3 linked regions of the Homo sapiens genome follow. The protein of the gene in region 3 purifies or fractionates together with the protein of the main gene of each other region. This does not show direct contact. Each region holds a gene or a part of one and is shown on either strand. Other genes may lie near its edges.

The links.
Region 1: the proteins of STEEP1 (region 3) and CACTIN purify together in Homo sapiens (affinity purification with mass spectrometry; 3 studies listed by BioGRID and IntAct, with this or other methods). This does not show direct contact.
Region 2: the proteins of STEEP1 (region 3) and KLHL36 purify together in Homo sapiens (affinity purification with mass spectrometry; 3 studies listed by BioGRID and IntAct, with this or other methods). This does not show direct contact.

Annotation. Positions count from the first base shown.
Region 1 is NC_000019.10:3,623,694-3,631,332, forward strand, and holds the start of CACTIN (splicing factor Cactin), read right to left. Parts: upstream 3,098-7,639; 5' UTR 3,070-3,097; coding exon 2,903-3,069; intron 470-2,902; coding exon 1-469. UniProt on the Homo sapiens protein: Plays a role in pre-mRNA splicing by facilitating excision of a subset of introns. Required for the splicing of CDCA5/Sororin, a regulator of sister chromatid cohesion. Involved in the regulation of innate immune response.
Region 2 is NC_000016.10:84,644,146-84,651,613, forward strand, and holds the start of KLHL36 (kelch-like protein 36), read left to right. Parts: upstream 1-4,365; 5' UTR 4,366-4,504; exon of another isoform or gene 4,505-4,742; intron 4,743-4,794; exon of another isoform or gene 4,795-4,921; intron 4,922-5,057; exon of another isoform or gene 5,058-5,183; intron 5,184-5,262; exon of another isoform or gene 5,263-5,434; intron 5,435-6,706; 5' UTR 6,707-6,722; coding exon 6,723-6,785; intron 6,786-7,468.
Region 3 is NC_000023.11:119,562,403-119,569,601, forward strand, and holds the start of STEEP1 (STING ER exit protein), read right to left. Parts: upstream 3,008-7,199; 5' UTR 2,954-3,007; coding exon 2,830-2,953; exon of another isoform or gene 2,723-2,829; intron 1-2,722.

The sequences.
Region 1 (7,639 bases), on a different chromosome or scaffold from region 3:
CCAGATGAAGGTGCCCAGCAGGTTGTTGTCTCCGAAGGGGTTGTCGGTGTTGGTGTAGCCCATGTACTCCTCACCCCAGCCCATCTTCTCCCGCTTCTTGCGCTCCTTGGCCTCCTTCTTGGCCAGCCGCCGTGCGCGCTTCTCCTCGGGCGTCTCGAAGGCCTTCATCAGCTCCTCCTGCTGCTTCCGCTCCTCCCGCAGCCGCAGCCGCTCCTGCAGGCTCTGCTGCTGGCTCAGGGCAGCCGCGGCCGCCCGGGGGCTCTGGGATCGCCCTGGAGACGCGGAGCTGGATGCTGAGGAGCTAGGAGACCACGAGCGTGCGCGCCGTCGCCGGCGAGCCCACTGGCCCCGTGACTGCTCCTCTCCTGAGTCCGACTGAGAGGACCCATCTCTTGAGTGCCACTTGGGCCGCGGGGGGCTCCGGCTTCGCATCCCTGAGCGCTGCCACCGCTCTTCCTCTGAATCTGACCTGCGGAGAGGACCATGGATGCCTGCTCAGTGCCTGCAGCTGTCATCTGCTCCACAGATGCTTACTGGGTGCCCGTGGGGGAGCAGGCACTGTTCTAGGTTCTGGGGACACAGCAGTGACCCAAATACCGATGGCTTCTGCCTTCCTGGGCTCACCCTCTGGTGGGCCCCAACAAGGAAGACATCAACAAATAAACACACCACGCAACACTAGGCAGAGGCAGAAGCCACAAAGAGTAGCAATGCCGAGCACAGGGGCTGGGGCTGCAGGGCCGAGGTCAGAGAGGGGCTCTCTCAGGAGCTGACACTGAGCCAAGGTCTGGAGGGAGTGGGGAGGCAGCGATGGGTGGATTCGGAGGGAGAGTGCTCGAGGCAGAGCAAGAGCGAGGGCCTAGAGGCAGGCACTGACCTGCCACATTCTAAGAACAACAAGGAGGCTGTATGGCTGAGACAGAGTGTGGGGGAGAGGGAGGAGGCGCGGGCAGGGAGGTGGCTGGGGCTGGTGGCGCAGGAATTATAAGGGTACGAACCAGGGGACCCGAACACATTTAGGCTGTCAAGGGAGGGCTTCCTAGATGGAAGTGGTATTTGAACTAGTCCCACAGGATGGACAGGAGTTAACAGAGTAGAGCGCAGGGAATGGAAGATGCACAACCTCAGGGGTGGTTCAGGGGCCTTTAATTTTATTTATTAGAGACAAGGTCTACTAGACACAGAGTCTACTAGAGACAAGGTCTATATTTTTATTTATTAGAGACAGAGTCTCCCTCTGTCACACAGGCTGGAGTGCATGATCAGAGCTCACTGCAGCCTTGACCTCCTGGGCTCAAGCCATCCTCTCGCCTCAGCCTCCTGAGTAGCGGGGACTACAGGCACACACCACCACGCCCAGGTAACTCTTTACATTTTTTTGTACAGAGGGGTCTTGCTATGTTGCCCAGGCTGGTCTTGAACTCCTGGGCTCAGGCAAGCCTCCTGTCTCAGCCTCCCAAAGTGTTGGGATTACAGATGTGAGCCACTGCGCTCAGTCACGTTTAGGGGTCTTTGTACACAGAGAACTGCCAAATATTTTGTTAAATGCTCTACCCATTAAGCTCATGTCAAAAAAATCTAAACTATGTTGAAACCAATCATTGCAGAGCCCTTAAATATTGGCCACAAGTTCAACTGAATTTTCGTGAACATTAATTCTAATTACATATCTAGAGTGGCAAATTATTGTGAATAATTCCAATACCAGAAAATGGTAGGCGAAAAAACACAAAGATGACATTAACAAGACTTATGGGCAGGCGCGGTGGCTCACGCCTGTAATCCCAGCACTTTGGGAGGCCGAGGCGGGCAGATCACTTGAGGCCAGGAGTTCAAGACCTGCCTGGCCAATATGGAGAAATCCCAGCTCTACGAAAAAATTCAAAAATTAGCTGGGTGTGGCAACAAGCACCTGTAACCCCAGCTACCGGGGAGGCTGAGGCTGAAGAATCGCTTGAACCCAGGAGGCAGAGGTAACAGCCGAGATCGTGCCACTGCACCCCAGCCTGGGCGACAGAGCAAGACTCCGTCTCAAAAACAAACAAACAAAAAAACCAACAACCGATGAGTGAACTTGGCCCAGAGCGGGGCAAGACTGGCCTGAGTGTCAGCCACGAAGGGGCTGAGCCAGCACTGGGGCCCCGGTCTGGGAATCAGTCCCTGTCCCCATTTTGGTTTCTCTGTACTGGAGCCGGCTCAAGGCAAATCCGACCAAGTGCCCCATCTCCAGAAGAAAAGGACCATGGGGAAGCTGAGATTCAGGCACTAGGAATCAGCTGTGAGTCCTGCCAGCTGACACCGAGTCTTTTTCCCTCCCACAGCCCACCTCCATTAGCAAATGTTGTCTCCTCTACTTCCAGAATCCCTCTGAAATCTACGCACTTTGCCCGCTGTGGTTGACTACAGCCTCCCTCCCATCGAGACTGCCATCATCTACTGTCTGGACAATTGTGCCGTCCTACTCTGATGCCGCTCCTGCCTACCCCGCTCCATCCCTTCTCCACCTCAAAGCCAGAAAGTATGCAGAGTTAAGTCAGTCCACGTCACTCCCCTACCCAAACTCCTCTCAAGACTCTCCATTTCCCTCCGACTAATAGCCAAGATCTAATGTGCTGAGCACACAGGGCTCGATATGATATGATCTGATCTCTCGTTACCTCCCCGCCGCCTCGCTCACCCGGCTCCGGGCTGTCCCTCCAACCGCCCGGTCCCCTGCCTGGAACGCCTCTCGCCTTCCTTCCGCTGCCAGGTTAATTCCAACCGGTGGTCAATTGTCCCCTTCTCTAGGAAGCCCTCCCCGAGTAAGTCGGGGGTTTCCCGGTTCCCCGGGATCTCCAACCCTCGGTCGGGCGCTCCTGAGGTAGGAGCCGGATCCCCAGCGCTGCTCCCGCAGCGACCCCACCTGCGCTCCCGGCTCCGCCGCCTCCGTCTGCGCCGTCCCTCGTCCTCCCGGCGCCGTCGGTTTCGCCGCCCATGGCTCCTGCTCCGACTTCGGCTCCCGCTCTGACTCTGCCGCCTTCGGCCCCGGCGACCCGCGGACCGCGAGCGCGAGCGTGTGTCCCGACCCATCGGCTGGGCCAGTGGCCGCGGCACCAACACCAATAGCCGAAGCCTGCGCTGGGGGCCTTCCTCGCCCACGGCGCTCTCCAGGCTGCCCCGTTTGCGCCTGAGCCGGGAAAGAGCAACCCATCCCGTCGCCCCAGCCCGCAAGGACTCCGACACCCCAGACTTTCCACTACGTCTGCAAATGTGGACCGCGTGATTGACTCCAGTGGGATTGTTGCCTCCAGGGTGGCGGAGTCTCCTTTCAGGCAGTGCTGGAGGCAGCCCTAGGCGGGTCCCCACGCCTCAGGGGGCCTGAGAAACTGTGGGCGGGGCAAGGGCAAACTAGGAACCTTGTGCAGGGAGGGGCCTGCCGAGGCGAGACCAATAAGAAGCGGGTCTAGGTCGGAAGTAGCGCTTCATTGGCGTGGCCAGGGGCGTGGCCGAGGAGAGGCGTGTCCGGGGAGCGAGGTCCCCGAAAGGCGAGGAACCGGGAAGGTGTTAGGTGCCAGGCAGCTCCAGAGGGCAGAGGGCGGGCGCGGGGACAGAAACTGAAAAGCCTTCTTATGAGAGTCATCGTTATGCTCCACCACCTGCCAATGAACACCTATGTATTTTGGGAGTTAAGCTTTAAAAAAAAACAAAAACTTTGATAACTCCCTGTATTCCCCCATCAACCCATTTTAGAGACGGGGAAACTGAGGCTCAGAGAGGGAAAGTCACTCTTAACACTTGCCTTCTCAACCCAGGCTGCCCAGCTTTGTGGTGTGGGTGCTGGGGACCCGTGGGAGGGTTGTGAGCAGGGTTTGGGGGACTTGCTGTTGAAACAAGTTTGGCGTGGGAGGACGGACTTCAGGGGCAAGGCTGGAGGCCAGAGACCTAGAAGACGCTGATGTCCCATCCTGAGCTCCCCTAGCCCATGGTGGCTGCTACCACCACCCCGTGCAGTTCTAACCACTCGGGGCTGGGAAGGCCTGTTTATGGAGGATGATAGTAATTTAAGCTAACTTTTAAAATATTTATCTTGGCCGGGCACGGTGGCTCACGCCTGTAACCCCAGCACTTTGAGAGGCCGAGGCGGGCGGATCACCTGAGGTCGGGAGTTCAAGACCAGCCTGGCCAATATGGTGAAACCCTATCTCTACTAAATAATACAAAAATTAGCCGGGTGTGGTGGCATGCACCTGTGATCCCAGCTACTTGGGAGGTTGAGGCAGGGAGAATTGCTTGAACCTGGGAGGCGGAGGTCGCAGTGAGCCGAGATCGTGCCACTGCGCTATGGCCTCGGCGATAGAGCAAGACTCCGTCTCAAAAAAAAAAAGAAAATTAAAATGTTTATCTTGAGTGGGGTGCAGTGGCTCATGCCTGTAATCCCAACACTTTGGGAGGCCGTGGCAGGTGGATCTTGAGGTCAGGAGTTCGAGACCAGCCTGTCCAACATGGCGAAACCCCGTCTCTACTAAAAATACAAAAATTAGCTGGGCATGGTGGCATGCTTGTAATTCCAGCTACTCGGGAGGCTGAGGCAGAAGAATCGCTTGAACCCAGGAGGCAGAGGTTCCTGTGAGTTGAGATCGCATCATTGCACTCCAACCTGGGCGACAGAGCAAGTCCCCGTCTCAAATAAATAAATAAATAAATAAATAAATAAATAAAACGTTTATCTTGGAATACAACTTCATAACATCCCCGTAAACGCTGGCTTTGTATGCTTTGCTTGGTGTTAAGGCAAGGATGGAACCTTACAGAGGAAGAAGAGACCATCTCCTGCCGCTCTAGATGATGACCTTGCCGGTCCTGAGATGTGGGTTGTCATGCTGATGGGATGGCCCAAAACAAAGCGAAGGCCTGACCCTGTGCTTCCCAAAATTCAGATGCATCCTTGCAGCACATTAAGAGATCACTTGCATGGGCCGGGCGCGGTGGCTCAGTCCTGTAATCCCAGCACTTTGAGAGGCCAAGGTGGGTGGATCACCTGAGTTCAGGAGTTCGAGACCAGCCTTGTCAACATGGTGAAACCCCACCTCTACTAAAAATACAAAATTTAGCCGGGTGTAGTGCCAGGCACCTGTAGTCCCAGCTACTCAGGAGGCCGAGGAAGAATTGCTTGAACCTGGGAGGCGGAGGTTGCAGTGAGCTGAGATCGTACCATTGCATTCCAGCCTGGGTGACAGAGCGAGACTCCATCTCAAAAAAAAAAAACAAAAAAACAAAAAACAAACTTAAAACAACGAGATCACCTCCATGTTCAGTTTATAAAACAGCTGTGCTGAAACGTTCCAACGGCTCCCTTACAGACAGGATCTTACTTTTTTTTTTTTTTTTTTTTTGAGACATTTTCTTGCTCTGTCGCCCAGGCTGGAGTGCAGGGGCATGATCTCAGCTCACTGCAAACTCTGCCTCCCAGGTTGGAGCAATTCTCTGGCCTCAGCCTCCCGAGTAGCTGGGATTACAGGTGTGAGCCATCACGCCTGGCCAGGATCTTGTTTTCAATGTAGTTTCTCAACCTGGGAGTCCAAGATAAATGTGTTCCCTTCAAGGGGTCCAAACGTGACTGAATTGGAACCGCTCTAGCAGAACAAATACAAACTTTGGGGGGCTGCAAAGATGTTGGAAACAATAAAATGTTTTCTGAGCTGAACTGGGACCTGAAGAAGGTTCACAGCTGGTAAGGTGTTTGGGTCCTATTACTGGTATCAGCATCAATCTCACAAAGGTTTCTCTCTTCTCTAAGATTCAAAGTCAGTCCTCAGGCCAGGCACGGTGGCTTACGCCTGTAATCTCAGCACTTTGGGATGAGGCGGGTGGGTCCTTTGAGGTCAGGAGTTTGAGACCAGCCTGGCCAATGTGGTGAAACCCCGTCTCTACTAAAAATACAAAAAAATTAGCCAGGTGTGGTGGCGGGCGCCTGTGGTCCCAGCTACTCGGGAGGCTGAGGCAGGAGAATGGCTTGAACCCGGGAGGCAGAGGTTGCAGTGAGCTGAGATCACTCCACTGCGCTCCAGCCTGGGCAACAGAACGAGACTCCATCTCAAAAAAAAAAAAAACAAAACACAGGCTGGGTGCGGTGGCTCACACCTGTAATCCCAGCACTTTGGGAGGCCGAGGTGGGCGGATCACGAGGTCAGGAGATCGAGACCATCCTGGCTAACATGGTGAAACCCTGCCTCTACTAAAAATAAAAAATTAGCTGGGCGTGGTGGCGGGCGCCTGTAGTCCCAGCTACTCAGGAGGCTGAGGCAGGAGAATGGTGTGAACCCAGGAGACGGAGCTTGCAGTGAGCTGAGATTGCGCCACTGCACTCCAGCCTGGGTGGAGAGCGAGACTCCATCTCTTAAAAAGAAAACAAACAAACAAACAAAAACAGAAAACAAAAAACACAGAACAAAGTCACTCCTCAGACTCCCAACCAGACCTCCGGAACCCACAGAAAGGCAAACAGGCGGATGCTTATTACCCGATTTATTAGAGAGATCTCTAAAAAGACGGGGTGTGGCGGGGGTAGGTGGGCGAGGAACCTGGGATGCAAACCAGTGTTTGGGGCCAGGAGTGGCTGTATGGTTTCAGAGGCGCCCACCACTCTGGGTTTGAGGGACACAGCACCCTCGTCTCGGCGCTTTGGATTGTCACGCACCAGACCACGGGGCGGAGGAATGGAGTGGCATCCCTGGGGGGAGTTAAGACACACGAGGTTTGCAGTTTCATTTTGTTTCAGAATCAGTTTGGCCATAAAAATGGGACTGGGTTGGGGACAGGCGGAGCGATTGAACCACCGGAGATGAGGAGGAGGTGGCAGGCGCCTCTCCTGGGGTGGGGACTGAGGGCTGTGGAGACAGTACCATGGTGAAGGACCCCATGGCAATGGGAGTATTGCACTGAGCCAGGTTTCGGGGGAACGGGGACGTGTCGGGATGGCGTAGGGGGACAGAGCCTGGCAGGAGACACATGGAAGTTTCCGCCTTGTCAGTCTCAGAGCAAACGCCTTTTAGTCTTTACAGTACAGGAATTTGGACACTGCCCACGTTCTCAGTGGACAGCAGCCATCAGAGGTGACCCAGGAGGGGAAGTGGGCATTGGTCACCAAGGTATTTACAGACTTCTATCATGGGGGACAGCGGGGTGGGTCCAGCAGCCTCCCTCGCGGGGGATCTGAGGGAGACCGAGTTCGCTAAATATTATAAATAGGTCTTGCCGTCCTCCTGCCCCCGCCCCTCGGCACAGTCAGTGGAGCACGTCAGCCTCGGTTTACAGTTCTCTGAAAAGGAACCAAAAAACACAACCAACACCAAGTATATCTCCAAAAGGGCCTTGGAGACAACACAAGAATGGAAATGAAATGGTATCCACAGAGGTTTGCACATTTCTCCTGCAAAGGCGCGTCGGCCGGGCACTGGTGTCCCGTGTCACTCAGCGGAGGGAGGCTGCCCTGGACGCGGTGCCGCCCGCCCGGGGCCACACCTGCTGCTCCGAGTCACCCCACAGGCTCTTGGCGTCTCTGGTGCCAGGGCTCTGGGCAGGGCGACTCGAGGACTCCCTGGGAGGACTGGTGTGGCCTCTGGGGGTTGGGCCTTTGAGATGACAATGCCCCTGTCCCTGC
Region 2 (7,468 bases), on a different chromosome or scaffold from region 3:
AGAAAGAAAGAAAGAAAGAAAGAAAGAGAGAGAGAGAGAGAGAAAGAAAGAAAGAAAGAAACGAAGGAAGGAAGGAAAAGAAAGAGGAAAGAAGGAAGGAAGGAAGAAGGGAAGGAAGGAAAGAAGGAAGGAAGGAAAGAAGGAAGGAGAGAGAAAGGAAGAAAAAAGGAAAAAAGGCACCATGTTGGGGAGAGAGTGTGCAAAAGAAAGGAACAAGCTTTTCTCCTGCTTTTTTGGAACAAAAGGTGGCCCACATTTTCATCCTGCACTGGGCCATGCAAAACATATAGCTGGCTGGCTCCATCGGATGGTGCCTGAATCTCAGAAGTGACAGTGTTGAGCTGCTGTTGGGGGCACCAATTAGGACAGGCTTTCAGGGGAGAGGCATGGTTTAGGGTCTTACAAATATGCAGACCTTTGGAGCCAGCAATTCCCCTTCACTGTCAGAGATGTGCATATGGATGTGTGAGCAAGGATGTTCACCACGGCATGATTCATAATAGAGACACCAGCTGGATGCCCAACAATGGGGGGAGGTCAAGGGCACAATCCATACTGAAGGATCAGGCACAGCCATTAAACATCATGTCATCAACGAGGACTTACTGACATGTGAAAAACTCATGACATTTGCAAAATGGGGAAAAAGTCAGCTACCAAGGAGTGTGCACCATAGGATCTCATTTGCATAGGCGTGCAGGGAATATATGCAGGAGAAAAATATTGAGCTGGTTTATCCTTAAATGCCAATAGCTGTTCTCCTCAGGTGGGTTATGTTTTCCTCTTCTGGGCCTGTTTTCCAACTGTCTGCACTGAGCACACATCACTGTCATCAGTGCACTGAGGTACTGTTGGGCAGTGGCCAAGGCTAGGGCTGCAGACACTGGAGGCAGACTCCCTGGGTTCAAAGCCCAGCTCTGCTCCTTACGAGTTCTGGGACCTTGAGCAAGGGATTTAACTTCTCCAGGACTCAGCTTCCCCATCTGCAAACAGGGAAAGTAATGATACCTTCCTCAAAGGATCAAGGTATTAACTCACCATGATAGGGTCATGGCTGATTGACTTGTTTGGCTGTCTTCCTAAAACCCCTGAAATTTTCTTCTTTATATCCCTGGCACCTACCACAGTGCCAGGCTTACAGCAGGTGTTCCTGAAAAGTCTGCTGAATGAACGAAGGAGGGAGTGCATGAATTCATGTAAGGATGGAGATCCACATCCCAGGGTACAGAGATAGTATCAAATGAGTTAATACATGCAGAGGGCTTACAGCACTGCCTAGTGCTTAGAAAACTGGAATTATCATTATGGCAAAGAAATTGTGTAAGAGGAAAATGTTGAGAGAACAATATGAACCAATTTTTTTGAATGATGTAGAAATGAGTGTTTGTTTTATTTTGTTTTGTTTTTGAGACAAGGTCTTGCTCTGTTACCCAGGCTGGAGTACAGTGGCACAACCACAGCTCACTGCAACCTCGACCTCGTGGGCTCAAGCAATCCTCCCACCTTAGCCTCCCAAGTAGCTGGGACTACAAATGCATGCAGCCATGACTGGCTGATGTTTAATTTTTTTTTGTACAGACGAGAGTCTTGCTATGTTGCCCAGGATGGTCTCGAACTCCTGAGCTCAAGTGATCCTTTTTCCTCCCAAAGTGCTGGAATTACCGGCATGAGCCACTACACATGGCTGTTTGGTTTTTTGTTTTGAACTTTTCTGTATTGAGAGTAGCTGAGTAAAGCATGCATTACTTTTATAATTTGGGAGGACACAAAACGTTACTGAAAGAAAAAGACTGAGAGAGTGGTTCACAAAGTGCTGTTGGGGAACGCAGGGTGAAGCCAAGTTAGCCGAGTCCACACCGTTTTCATGTCAAGGTCATGTGTGGATGAGCTTGTCTTAGGCCCTTACTCCGGCCCCCATACACCAGGTTGCACGTCTTCTCATTCATGATGAACACAACACCCGGAAGGCCGATGTTCATGCTGAGTTATAGGCTCTACAGCGAAATCTCTTGTTAGATAAATAGATAGATAGATAGATAGATAGCATAGATACCCATATATAGAGGTGCATGTATCCATTTATCTATATAAGAGTTATAGGCTCTTAAAATATCTACAGCTAAATCTCTTGTTAGACAGATAAATAGATATGATAGATACCCATATATAGAGGGGCATGTATCTATTTATCTACCTATATCTATTTATCAAGAGAATCTTTAACTCTAGCTGTAAAAAAGAATATGTCCAACTCTTGGTGCTCCGTGTATTGCCCCAACACAGTACTCACCACGCTAGGACCATTGCTGATTGACTTGTTTTCCTGTCTTCCTAAGAGCCCTGAAAGTTTCTTCTTTGTATCCCTGGCACCTACTACAGTGCCGGCCACACAGCAGGTGTTCCTGAAAAGTCTGTTGGATGAATGAGAGGCAGTGCATGAATTCATGTCAGAACAGAGATCCATCCACATGTCGGTATGGAGACAGAATAACAGGAGGATTAGCTTTGTCTGGGGTAGGGACAGGTCCAGGAAGGGTCAAAGACAGGCAAGTAAGGCTTGGCAGGGTGAATGTGTACAGTCCCCAAAGAAAAGGGGAGAGAGAGAGAGAGAGATGGGGGACAGCAATCCAGTCAGTGAGAACATCATTTAAAGATCCTTGGCTCACACCTGTAATCCCAGCACTTTGGGAGCCTGAGGCAGGCAGATCACCCGAGGTCAGCAGTTTGAGACCATCCTGGCCAATATGGTGAACCCCATCTCTACTAAAAATACAAAAATTAGCCAGGCGTGGTGGTGGGCGCCTGTAATCCCAGCTACTCAGGAGGCTGAGGCAGGAGAATCGCTTGAATCCAGGAAGTGGAGATTTCAGTGAGTTGAGATTGAGCCGTTGCACTCTAGCCGGGGTGACAGAAAGACTCTGTCTCAAAAAAATAAATAACCATCCCGGCTAACACGGTGAAACCCCGTCTCTACTAAAAATACAAAAAATTAGCCGGGCGAGGTGGTGGACGCCTGTAGTCCCAGCTACTTGGGAGGCTGAGGCAGGAGAATGGCGTGAACCCGGGAGGCGGAGCTTGCAGTGAGCCGAGATCCCGCCACTGCACTCCAGCCTGGGCGACAGAGCGAGACTCCGTCTCAAAAAAAAAAAGAAAAAAAATAAATAAATAAATAAATAAAATAAATAAATAAATAATTAAAAAATAAAGATCCTGTAAGTGGGCTGGGTGTGCTGGCTCACACATGTCATCCCAGCACTTTGGGATACCGAGGCACGAGGATCGCTTGAGCCCAGGGGTTCAAGACCAGCTTGGACAACAAACTGAAACCCTGTCTCTATAAAAATCAAAGAAAAAAAAATAGCCAGGTGTGGCAGCCGGCACCTGTGGTCTCAGCTGCATGAAAGACTGAGGCAGGAGGATCACTTGAGCCTGGGAGGTGGAGGCTGTAGTGAGCACTACACAAAAGAAATCGCTGATCCTTCAGCAGCCATTTCCCACTCCAGCAACTCCCCGCCCCTGGCAACCACTCATCTACTTTCTGTCTCTATGGATTGGCTTGTTCCGGACATTTCACATACACGGAATCATACAGTGTGTGGTCTTTTGTGTCTGGCTTCTTTCACTAAGTATTACATCTCCAAGGTTCATCCCGCTGTAGCATGAGCGAAGTGTGACAATTGATAGATGGATCGATGAAGGTTACATTCATTCATTCCATACACATTTACTGAGCACCTACTGTGTGCCAGTCTTGGCGACGACCCAGTCAGGAATAGAACTAACAGTAAACCCTGCCCTGGAGGGCTTCTGGTAGGGAGGAGAGACAATAAACCGAATAAACTAGTACATTATTTGGAATATTAGACGCTGATAAGAGCTCAAGTGAAGCATGGGGTTGGAAGTTGGGTGCAGAGAGAGGGGCTGTGACTTCGAGCAGAGCGGTCAGCAAAGGCCTCGCCGCAGGGTGGCCGCAGGGACGCTCCCGCTCAGCCCGGAAGGAGGCGAGAGGCGCGGTGCCCGTCCCGGCGACTCTGGGCCAGCAAAGAGCTCCCAGCGCACGCGTCGGTGCCTCGAGGCCCGGGACCCTGCGTGTCTGGTCCCCGCCGTGGCCCTGCGTCCGTGACGGTGGGTGGCACCAGGGAGCATTTCGCGCGGCGGGGCTGGGGCCTGCCTTTGAAGGGACGGAGTCGGGCGTCGTGGTGGGGTGGACACCGGGGATCCCCGGGGCGCGGACGAGGGGGGCGTCCACCCTGCGAGCTCACCCCACGGCCCCCGCGTCCCGCCCTCAGCCGCAGGCCCCGCCCCGCGCCGCCCGGCCCCGCCTCCCCGCGGCCGCCGCCATTGGCCGCGCGCGCCGCCTCCGCCCTCGGCCTCGCACTTCCTGGCGGAGCCATGGCTGCGCAGCGGGCTGGCCGGGGGTCTCCTGAACCCGGGCCCCGCCGCCCCGACCGCCCGGCCCCGCCGCCGGGGCTGTCCCCGCCGCGTCCGTAGCGCGTCCTGCCAGGTGGGCCTCCGCGCGCGCCCACCCTCCAGCCCGGGACCGCCAGGAAGCCGCGCCCGGCCGGGGCGGGGAGCTGGCGGAGATCGGGAGGGTCCCCGGCCACCGCGAGCCGCGACCCCCCTGCGCCCCTTGGTGCCGGGGCGGGCGGGTGGGCGAGTGGGGGCGCCGCGGCCGGGGGAGGGGCCGCCGCCCCCGCAGGTGACACAGGTGCGGCCTGTGCGGACCGCCCCGCGCGTGGCAGGTGAGTGGCCCCCGCCCCGGGCCGTCCCGACTCCGCCTCCTCGCCGCCGGCTGGAGCCTGCTGGGCGGCCGTTGCGCTGAGTTCCGCCTGGGCTGCGGGGTCCGAGCGAACGACAGCGGCGTCCCCGGAGACCCCGCCGGCGAGCCGGTGTCAGCAGCGTCGCTTTCTCCAACGCTGAGGTCGGGAGGGAGCTTGGGGAGGAGGCGCTCTGGGAAACCCCCGGCCGGACGGGGCCTGCGGTCCCATGTTTACTGGAAGACCTTTTCCAGTGACCTGGGATTGTCACTGTGCTTGGGGGTGGCCTTGACCCTTCACCTGCTTCCAAAAAGCGTCGGAGGCCGCTGACGTCCAACACGGGTGGAAATCAGACCCCACCCCCACGCACTTGCAGGAGACAGCAGGGAGCCTCCGGCCCCGCGAACTCTCTCTAGGTATCTTGGCCTAGAAAATAAAGCGTTGAGCGTTAGAAGGCCTGGTTGATTCTGGGCAGGCTGCCTGGGGCGGTGGAGAGAGAGGGCACCTGCTGCTTGCTGTTCTGTGACCTTGGGCAACCCCCCCTGGGGCACCCGAGCGCCAGGTCTCACTGTGGGAACGACGGTGTCACCTCTCAGCGTGAAGGTGGAATGAAGTCGAGTCCGCGGTGGGCACCGCACCAACGCTGGGTTTCTTCTCTTCCCTCTCTGGGCTCTCCAGCATCCTAGGGGAGGGCCGGGGTGGGAACAGCTTGTCATTGTCACAAAGTTTCTAGTTTGTCGAGAGGAATCCAGTTGCCCCTTCTCTCCCTAGGGGAGTTGCACGGGACGGACTGTGCCCGAATTCATTCCTTCCATGGGAACACTGGAGTGCCCTCCCTGTGTCCCCAGTTATCTAAGAACAGTGCTGACTTCTTGTCACATTGTTCTTTATTAGTGAAGACTATTTGTTCAATAGGTAACAAACTCTTCTCATGAACTCAAATAGCGGGGGAAAAAAATCCTCTTTAAAACCTTCGTCTCAGTATGTGACTTGTGCTAATATTAGTTGGCAAAGTCCCTTCTCTGTGTTCCCTTCCATCTTTGAAGCACCTGCCCCTCCCCCTGCCTCCCCCGCCCCCCACACACCAAAGCTTAACTCTGTCTGCAGTGATCCCCCACCCAAGAGCCAGGCAGTGTAGCCTAAGAGTTAAGAGCATGGGCGCTTCCCTGAGCTGGAATCCCAATTCTGCCAGTTCCCAGCTGTGTGACGCCGGGCAGCTTATTTCACCTCACTGCTCTCAGCATCCTCCAGTCACAGTGCTGGCCTCATGGGGTTGCAGTGGGGACTAAGTGAAGATGCAGAGAAGCACTTGGGGACAGTGTGTGTCTAGAATGTACTGTGTACATGGTAGTCATCACTGTACCACATCCTCATCTGCATCATGATATTTTTAAAGTGTGATACTCTCGAACCCGGGCCTCATTCAGCAGCGTGTCATGGTGATGGATCCAGGTTTTGAAGCTGGACAGACCGAGGCGTGATTCTCGGCCGTTTACTAGCTTTGTGACCATGAGATCAATATCCTCATCTGTGAAATGAAATAAGTGATATCAGCCTGGCCAAGTATAATCTTTGTGGGGGTTAAATGAGATGGCACACTTAAGTCACTTAGCTTGGTTCGAGGGCTGTAGTCTGGGCTCCGAAATGATAACTTATCATTATAACCTTGATGTAGCCAAAAGGTAATTATTTGTAGGAAGTGAACCAAATGACATGATATCAGATTTTAGATGATAAAGGAATGGGAGTTAAATGTTCTGTCCAATTCTAACAACCCGATGATTTCTCAACTCGGTGTAAAAGAGTTCTTTGTAGTGCACGGTCCTCCCTCCCTCCTTCTTCCGTGTGACTGTTTTCACTGTCATCCTTGGTATCTGCTAGCAGGGCCTGAAATTAATGAATGACCTAGAGTTATGACTGCATGCTCAGAAATCCTGTTCTTCTCCTAGGGCTGAAATCTCTTTAATGATGGAGGGAAGCAGGCAGACGCGAGTGTCTCGGCCATACAAGATCAGCGAATCATCAAAGGTCTGTGAATGTTCACTCACCACCTATGCAAATTGCCTAAGAAGTGTGATCCTTTTTCTGATTCACTCATTTCTAATCACAGACTGATTTTTTTGTCATTGGTGTTGTCAGTCTCCTTAATGACAAGTAAAGGTGGAAACGGGCAAGGAGCAGAAATTGTCATAAAATCAGACAGTGGGAAGTATGAGGGATGGTAGAGACGCTATGGCCAGATGTCTTCATTTTTCCATGTGACATTCCGGAGCTTTCTTTTTGTGACAACTTGACTCATTCGTTAACCCAAGGAGGTGGATGGGACAGGAAGAAAACTGGGATTCCCATGCCTGCTTGGGGGCTCAAAAACTCCAAGGACAGGTCCATTGAGAACCCAGCCTTCTACCTTAGGGTGAGGGCAACACACCGTGTACCCGGACCCCAAGGGCCTGGAGTCGTCTTCCCTGGTCATGATTCCCTGCGACCTAAGAGCAAGTGAGGGCAAGTTCCCCAGAGCCAGGCTACTGGGGGAGTTCTAATTAGAAATATGTAGCCTGTTCCCACCAGCCACATTAAAATCCAAGAGCCAGACCCGGCTGCTATACTTTCCACAAACTCCTGTCCCCACAGCTGCTGTTGGTAAAGAGTGGGGGAGCCATTGGTATGAGGTTCCTGGTAACCTGTTTCCCCGTTATAAATATTCGTAATGC
Region 3 (7,199 bases):
CATGCCTGTAATCCCAGCTACTCGGGAGGCTGAGGCAGGAGAATCGCTTGAACCCAGGAGACGGAGGGTGCAGTGAGCCGAGATGGTGCCACTGCACTCCAGCCTGGGCAACAAGAGCGAAACTCCGTCTCAAAAAAAAAAAAAAAAATTAGCCAGACATGGTGGCAGGTGCCTGTAATCCCAGCTACTCAAGAGAATCACTTGAACCTGGGAGGCAGAGGTTGCAGTGAGGTGAGATCGCACCATTGCACTCCAGCCTGGGCTACAAGAGCTAGACACTGTTTCAAAAAAAAAAAAAAAAAGTTCCGGCCCTGATGAAGCTTACATTCTAGTGGAAGAGGCAACATATTTTAAAATAATTATAATATGATTTTGGGTAATGATAAGTGCTAAATATTAAGCAGGGTAAGAGGACAAAGTGACAGGGATGCTGTTTTAGATAAGGTAATCAGGGAAGGGTTCTCTAAGGAAATTACATTTTAGCAGAGACCTGAATGAAGTAAGGGAGGGATTGAGGGAAAAGTTTTTGGGGCAGAAGAAATACCAATTAAAAAGGCACTGGGGGGCAGGAACACTTTTGACATGATGGAGAAAAAGCAAAAAGGCCACTGTGGCTGAAGTGCGATGAGCAAGAGGAAGACTGTTAGGGAATGAAGCCTGAGAGGTAGCCACAGGCCTGATCAAGGGTCTTGGTATGGATGGACTTTGGTTTTATTCTCAGTGTTATATGAAACCATTGGTTTTGAACAGGACTCTGGCTACTATGTGGAAAAGAGTGGAAGCAACGAGAGCAAGAGACTATTGTGCCAATCCAGGTGAAAGATGGTAGTAGCTTGGACTACAGTGTTAGAAGTGGAGGTGGTAGGCCGGCCGTGGTGGCTCATGCCTGTAATCCCAGCACTTTGGGAGGCCTAGGTGGGTGGATCACTTGAGGTCAGGAGTTCAAGACCAGTCTGGCCAACATGGTGAAACCCCATCTCTACTAAAAATACAAAATTAGCCGGGCGTGGTGGCACATGCCTGTAATCCCAGCTACTAGGGAGGTTGAGGCAGGAGAATCGCTTGAACCTGGGAGGTGGAAGTTGCAGTGAGCCGAGATCGCACCACTGCACTCCAGCCTGGGCAAGAAGAGCGAAACTCCATCTCAAAAAAAAAAAGAAAAAAAAAAAAACTAGCCGGGCCTGGTGGCGCACACTACTTGGGAGGCTGAGGCAGGAGAATCGCTTGAACCTGGGAGGCGGAAGTTGCAGTGAGCTGAGACCGCGCCACAGCACTCCAGCCTGGGTGACAGAGTGAGACTCCCTCTGTCTCAAAAAGAAAAAGGAATGGAGGTGGTAAGAAGCAGTCAGATCCTGCATACATTTTCACGAAAGCACCTGCAGGATTTCCTGATGGACTGGACAGATGTAAGGTACGTGACAGACAGAAGTCAAGACTGATTCCAGGTTTTGGTCTGAGATACTGGATGAATAGTTGTACTACTGACTGCAATAGGGATGACTATAAGAGGAGCAATTGGAGAGGGGGTGTAGAGGGTCATGAACTCAATTTTCAGCACGATATATTTGAGAGGCCCATTAGACATTCAAGTGGAGATGTTGAATAGGCAATTGGAGTCTCAGGAGAGGTGCAGGTTAAAGATGAACATCTGGGAGTTACCAGCATGTCAGTTGTATTTAAAGCTTGGGAATGAATGAGATCACCTAGGGGGTGGGTACAGAGTGAGAACAGGTGAGAGTACTGAGCTATAGGGCCTTGGAATGCCTAAAAGTCTGAGAGAGAAAAGGGAGCCAGACAAGGGGAAAAATCTAAGGCTGGGCGCGGTGGCTCACGCCTGTAATCCCAGCACCTTGGGAGGCCGAGGCGGGTGGATCACGAGGTCAGGAGTTCGAGACCAGCCTGGCCAACGTAGTGAAACCCCCGTCTCTACTAAAAACACAAAAATTAGCCGGGCATGGTGGCGGGCGCCTGTAATCCCAGCTACTCGGGAGGCTGAGGCAGGAGAATCACTTGAATCCGGGAGGCAGAGCTTGCAGTGAGCCGAGATTGCACCACTGCACTCCAGCCTGGGCAGCAGAGTGAGACTCCATCTGAAAAAAAAGGGGGGGGGGAAATACGAGGTAGGAGGAAAATCAAGTGAGTATGGAGTCTTGGAAGCAAATAAAAAACATGTTGCAAAAGGAATGAAATGATTACCTCTGTCAAATGCCACTGACAGAATTAAAATGAACATTGATAACTGACCACTAGAACTGTTAACATGGAGCCAAATACGGTTAAGATGATGAGGTGGGAAGGAAAGCCTACCTGAAGTGAGGTCAGGAGAGAATTAGAAGTCAGGATGCAGAGACAGCCAATATAGGCAACTCTTTTGAGAAGCTTTGCTATAAAAGAAGCAACGAAATGGGGTTATAGCTGGAGGGGAATACAGGATCGAGGGAGGGTTTTATTTTCGTTTGCTGTGAGGTAAGAGCAACTGCAGCATCTTGGTATCCAGCAGAAAAGTTATAAAGCTTCTAGAGGCAGTAGTTTTTGAAGACAGTGGATTAAGAGGGAAATACAATATGTTTGTGTTTCTATTTTTGTTCTCCTGAAGGAGTTTAGTTTTGAGGAAGGTCTGGATACAGAGTCACAAGGCTAAACAAAAAGCAGGAAAAAAAAAAATGCCCTGGAGTGGGGCGGGGATGCGTAGGGAGGATTTAGTCGGAGAGAGAAAACCCACCAATCTTCGTTGAGAAGTGGCTCCCAGATCACAGCCAGAGGAAATTCGCCTTCAAGAACCCGAAGTCTGGCTCCTTGCAGACGCCCCCGCAGTTCCCGGCTACTCACCCAGCACTAGGACCATCTGGCCGCACAAACAGTAGTAAACATGGAGGGGCTTCTCGCCGTCGTCATATTCCTCCCGGTCCCGAGTGTCAGAGCAGACTACTGACCGAGACACTACTTTCGGCATGATTCCCAAGAGCAATCTGAAAACTCTACGCCAAGAAGAGGGTCGCCCCGAAATGACGTCACGAGTGCGCCTTGCACCTTTTCCTTGTGGCTACGCTGGTCACGTGTTAGCAGAAGTCTTATAAACTTCCGGGCTGTCCTATCAGGCTAAGATATACGGGGGTGCGCCTGGAGCCTCCCAGAACCTACTTTGTCTTGGCCAAGTTAGCTGGGACTCCTGTGATCTGGGAGTCACTTCTCAATGAAGATTGGTGGGCTTTCTCACAACACCCTTAATATTATATAAATTCTTTACATTTCTATAACGCATGCATTTATATGTATATATACACATATGTATATATAAGACCAGCTAAATAAAGGACTATGCATTATATAGTTTATATTATATATATATATATATATATATGATACTGATTTGGGTGTGTTTCTAAATATGATTGTGATTTTAATGACTATTCCAGATGAGTACATAATTTTTTAGGTATCTTATTTTTTAGTTGATATAATTCACGTAACATAAAATTCACCCTTTTAAAATGTGTAATTGGGTGTTTTTTAGTGTATTCACAAAGTTGTGTAACCATCACCACTAATTCCAGAACATTTCCATCATCTCAAAAAGAAATCTTATACCCATTAGTAGTCACCACGACCCGCACATCCCCCACCTTCCCAGCCCACGGCAACCACTAATCTACTTTTTATCTCTATGGATTTGCCTATTCTGGACATTTCATATAAATGGAATCCTACAATATGTGGCCATTTGTCTGGCTTCTTTCATTTACCATAATGTTTTCAAGGTTCATCCATGTTACAGTACTTCTTTCCTTTTTATGGTTGAATAATATTTCATCATATGGATATATCACATTTTGTTCATTCATCAATTGGCAGACAACGGGGATGTTTTCACTTTTTGGTTATTATATAGATAATGCTGCTATGAACATTCATGTACAAGAATACTTCCACCGCAAATTTGTGTGGGAATATAAATCTGGATTTTTAACTTTTGACAGCACGAGAAGTGATTAAAGCACCTTGACACTGTTTGTGATTCAAACAATGTGGGATGTCATTGAATGACTTTACTGCAGTACAGGTTTCAGGTATAAACACTGTTTTGCCTTGTAATTTTAGGTTAAATTCATTAAGGAACATTACTAAGTCTATGGCAAAAGCCATTTTTTAAAACTATTCATGTTCAATAATAGTGGTCAAGGGTGGGGTTCTTCTCATTTAGAAAATTTTCTAAAATTTTGAATTCAAATTCAAATTCAAATTTTCTAAAATCTTGAACTCCTGACCTCGTGATCCACCCACCTTGGTCTCCCAAAGTGCTGGGATTACAGGTGTGAGCCACCGCGCCCAGCTGAACTTCACTGTTGACACTACTGTCAAGAATAACACAAGACAGATTCAAGTTTGTTTGTTTGTTTGTTGCAAAGTACCTGCTGTTTAATAATACAATTAATAACTACAGGATTTTAAACAACTTACATTTTGACAAGTATTGTACATTTGTCTAAACCTTTTCTGCTCCATACATATTTGTAATACATCTTAGCAAATTATGCTTTAGACTGAATTGAATTAGTGTTTTCCTGACTTCTTTGAAATACTCTCATCTGCAGTTGTTCCACACAAGACCATACACCCAGGCCAATTTTTTTTTTTTTTTTTTTTTTTGAGACAGAGTCTGGCTCTGTCACCCAGGCTGGCTGGAGTGCAGTGGCACAATCTTGGCTCACTGCAACCTCCACCGCCCAGGTTCAATCAACTCTCCTGCCTCAGCCTCCTGAGTAACTGGGATTACAGGCACATGCCACCATGCCTGGCTAATTTTTTTTTTTTTTTTTTTTTTTGTATTTTTAGTAGAGGCAGGGTTTCACCATGTTGGTCAGGCTGATCTCAAACTCCTCACCTCAAGTGATCTGCCCACATCGGCCTCCCAAAGTGCTGAGATTACAGGCGTGAGCCACCACGCCCGGTCCAATTCTTCAGTCACTTTAAAGTCAACATTGACTCCTTGAGTAAAAAACAACAACTGAGTAATATTGGTAAACATTCATCAGGAGCCAAGGAAAACCACTTGAAATCATTTGCTTTGTTTTTGTTTTTGTTTTTGAGACAGGGTCTTGCTCTGTCACCCAGGCTGGAGTGCAGTGGCATGATCACAGCTCACTGCAGCCTCAAACTCCTGGGCTCAAGTGATCCTCCCACCTTAGCCTCCCTAGTAGCTGGGACCACACATGCACACCACCACATCGGCTATTTTTTTTTTAATTTTTTTGTAGAGACAAGGTCTTGCTGTGTTGCCCAGGGTAGTCTTGAACTGTTGGGCTCAAGCAATCCTTCTGCTGCAGGCTTTCAAAGTGCTGAGATTACAGGTGTGAGCCACCGTGCCTTGCCCTTTTTTGTTTGTTTGTTTTTGTTTTGATGTTGATTTCAATGTCCTCAACTCTTAGAGCCACTGTTCTTGCTGAAAGGTGAATAGTCTTCACAAGTTTTATTTTTCTTGAGCCTATTTCTTTGACTTCTGCAGCCAAACACAATTTAGCTCAGTATCAGTAAATGACTTTCCTTGGTTGGCTAACAAAGGAGCCACTCAGAAACTTACTTTGACTATAGGCTTATTTTTATTTTTTCCTTTTTGGGGGGGGCGGGGGATGGAGTCTCGCTCTCTCGCCCAGGCTGGAGGGCGGTGGCGTGATCTCGGCTCACTGCAACCTCCACCTCCCAGGTTCAAGCAATTCTCCTGCCTCAGCCCCCTGAGTAGCTGGGATTACAGGCATGCGCCACCACACTCAGCTACTTTTTGTATTTTTGGTAGAGATGGGGTTTTCTTTTTTTTTTTTTCTTTTTTTTTTTTTTTGAGACGGAGTCTCGCTCTGTCGCCCAGGCTGGAGTGCAGTGGTGCGATCTCGGCTCACTGCAAGCTCCGCCTCCCGGGTTCGCGCCATTCTCCTGCCTCAGCCTCCCGAGTAGCTGGGACTACAGGCGCCCGCCACCACGCCCGGCAAATTTTTTGTATTTTTAGTAGAGATGAAGTTTCACTGTGTTAGACAGGATGGTCTCGATCTCCTGACCTCGTGATCCGCCCACCTCGGCCTCCCAAAGTGCTGGGATTACAGGCGTGATCCCCCACGCCCGGCCGAGATGGGGTTTTCCCATGTTGGCCAAGCTGGCCTGGAACTCCTGACCTCATGATTCACACACCTCAGCCTCCCAAAGTGCTGGGATTACAGGCATGAGCCAATGCGCCTGGCCTATTTTTTAGTTTTATTATGAATTTTGCCATAATAAGATATTCTACTTAAAATTTTAAATTTTACTAGCCATTGCTCTCCTCTGAGTTGGGAATATTGTGATGAATGCTTAGTCTGGTAACATTGATGTACATTATAATATTATTAAATCTTTTGACTTTTTTCAACCGTTTAAGAATATAGAAAGCCATTCTTAGTTTGTAGGCCATAGACAAATAATGGCAGGTTAGATTTGGCTGCAGTTTGCTGAGCCCTGGTCTGATGGATGTGGCTGGTTTGATTGAATTCCCATGTACAACATGGTAGACATGTGTATTAGTTTCATATTACTGCTGTAACAAGTTACCACAAACTTGGTGGCTTAAGACAACACAAATGTATTATCTTAGAGTTTTGGACATCAGAAGTCCAAAACCAATATCAGTGGTCTAAAGTCAAGGTGTCAGCAGGTCTGATTGCTTCTGGGGGCTTCAGGCTTCCATCTTTTGCCTCTTCCAACTCCTACTGCAGACATACTTTGGCTCCTTCCCTGGTGGCCACATCACTCCAATCTCTGCTTCAGTCATCACATGGCCTCCTCTTTGACTCCTACTTCATCCCTCGTATAAGGACTGGTTTGATTGCCTCAGGCCCACCCCTTTAATCCAGGATAATATCCCCATGTCAAGATTCTTAATTTAATCACATCTGCAAAGTCCCTTTTGCCATGTAAGGTAACATATTCACCAGTTACAGAGATAAGGAAATGGAGATCTGGCTGGGGGGGCGGAGGGGGCAGGGTTGTGCATTATTCAGCATACCACACCATGCCTTTGTTTTCTTTGATTCAGTAATTTAGCAGGTAGTGAAATCCTTTTTTTTTTTTGAGACGGAGTCTGGCTCTGTCACCCAGGCTGGAGTGTAGTGGCGTGATCTCGGCTCACTGCAGCCTCTGCCTCCCAGGTTCCAGCGATTCTCCTGCCTCAGCCTTCC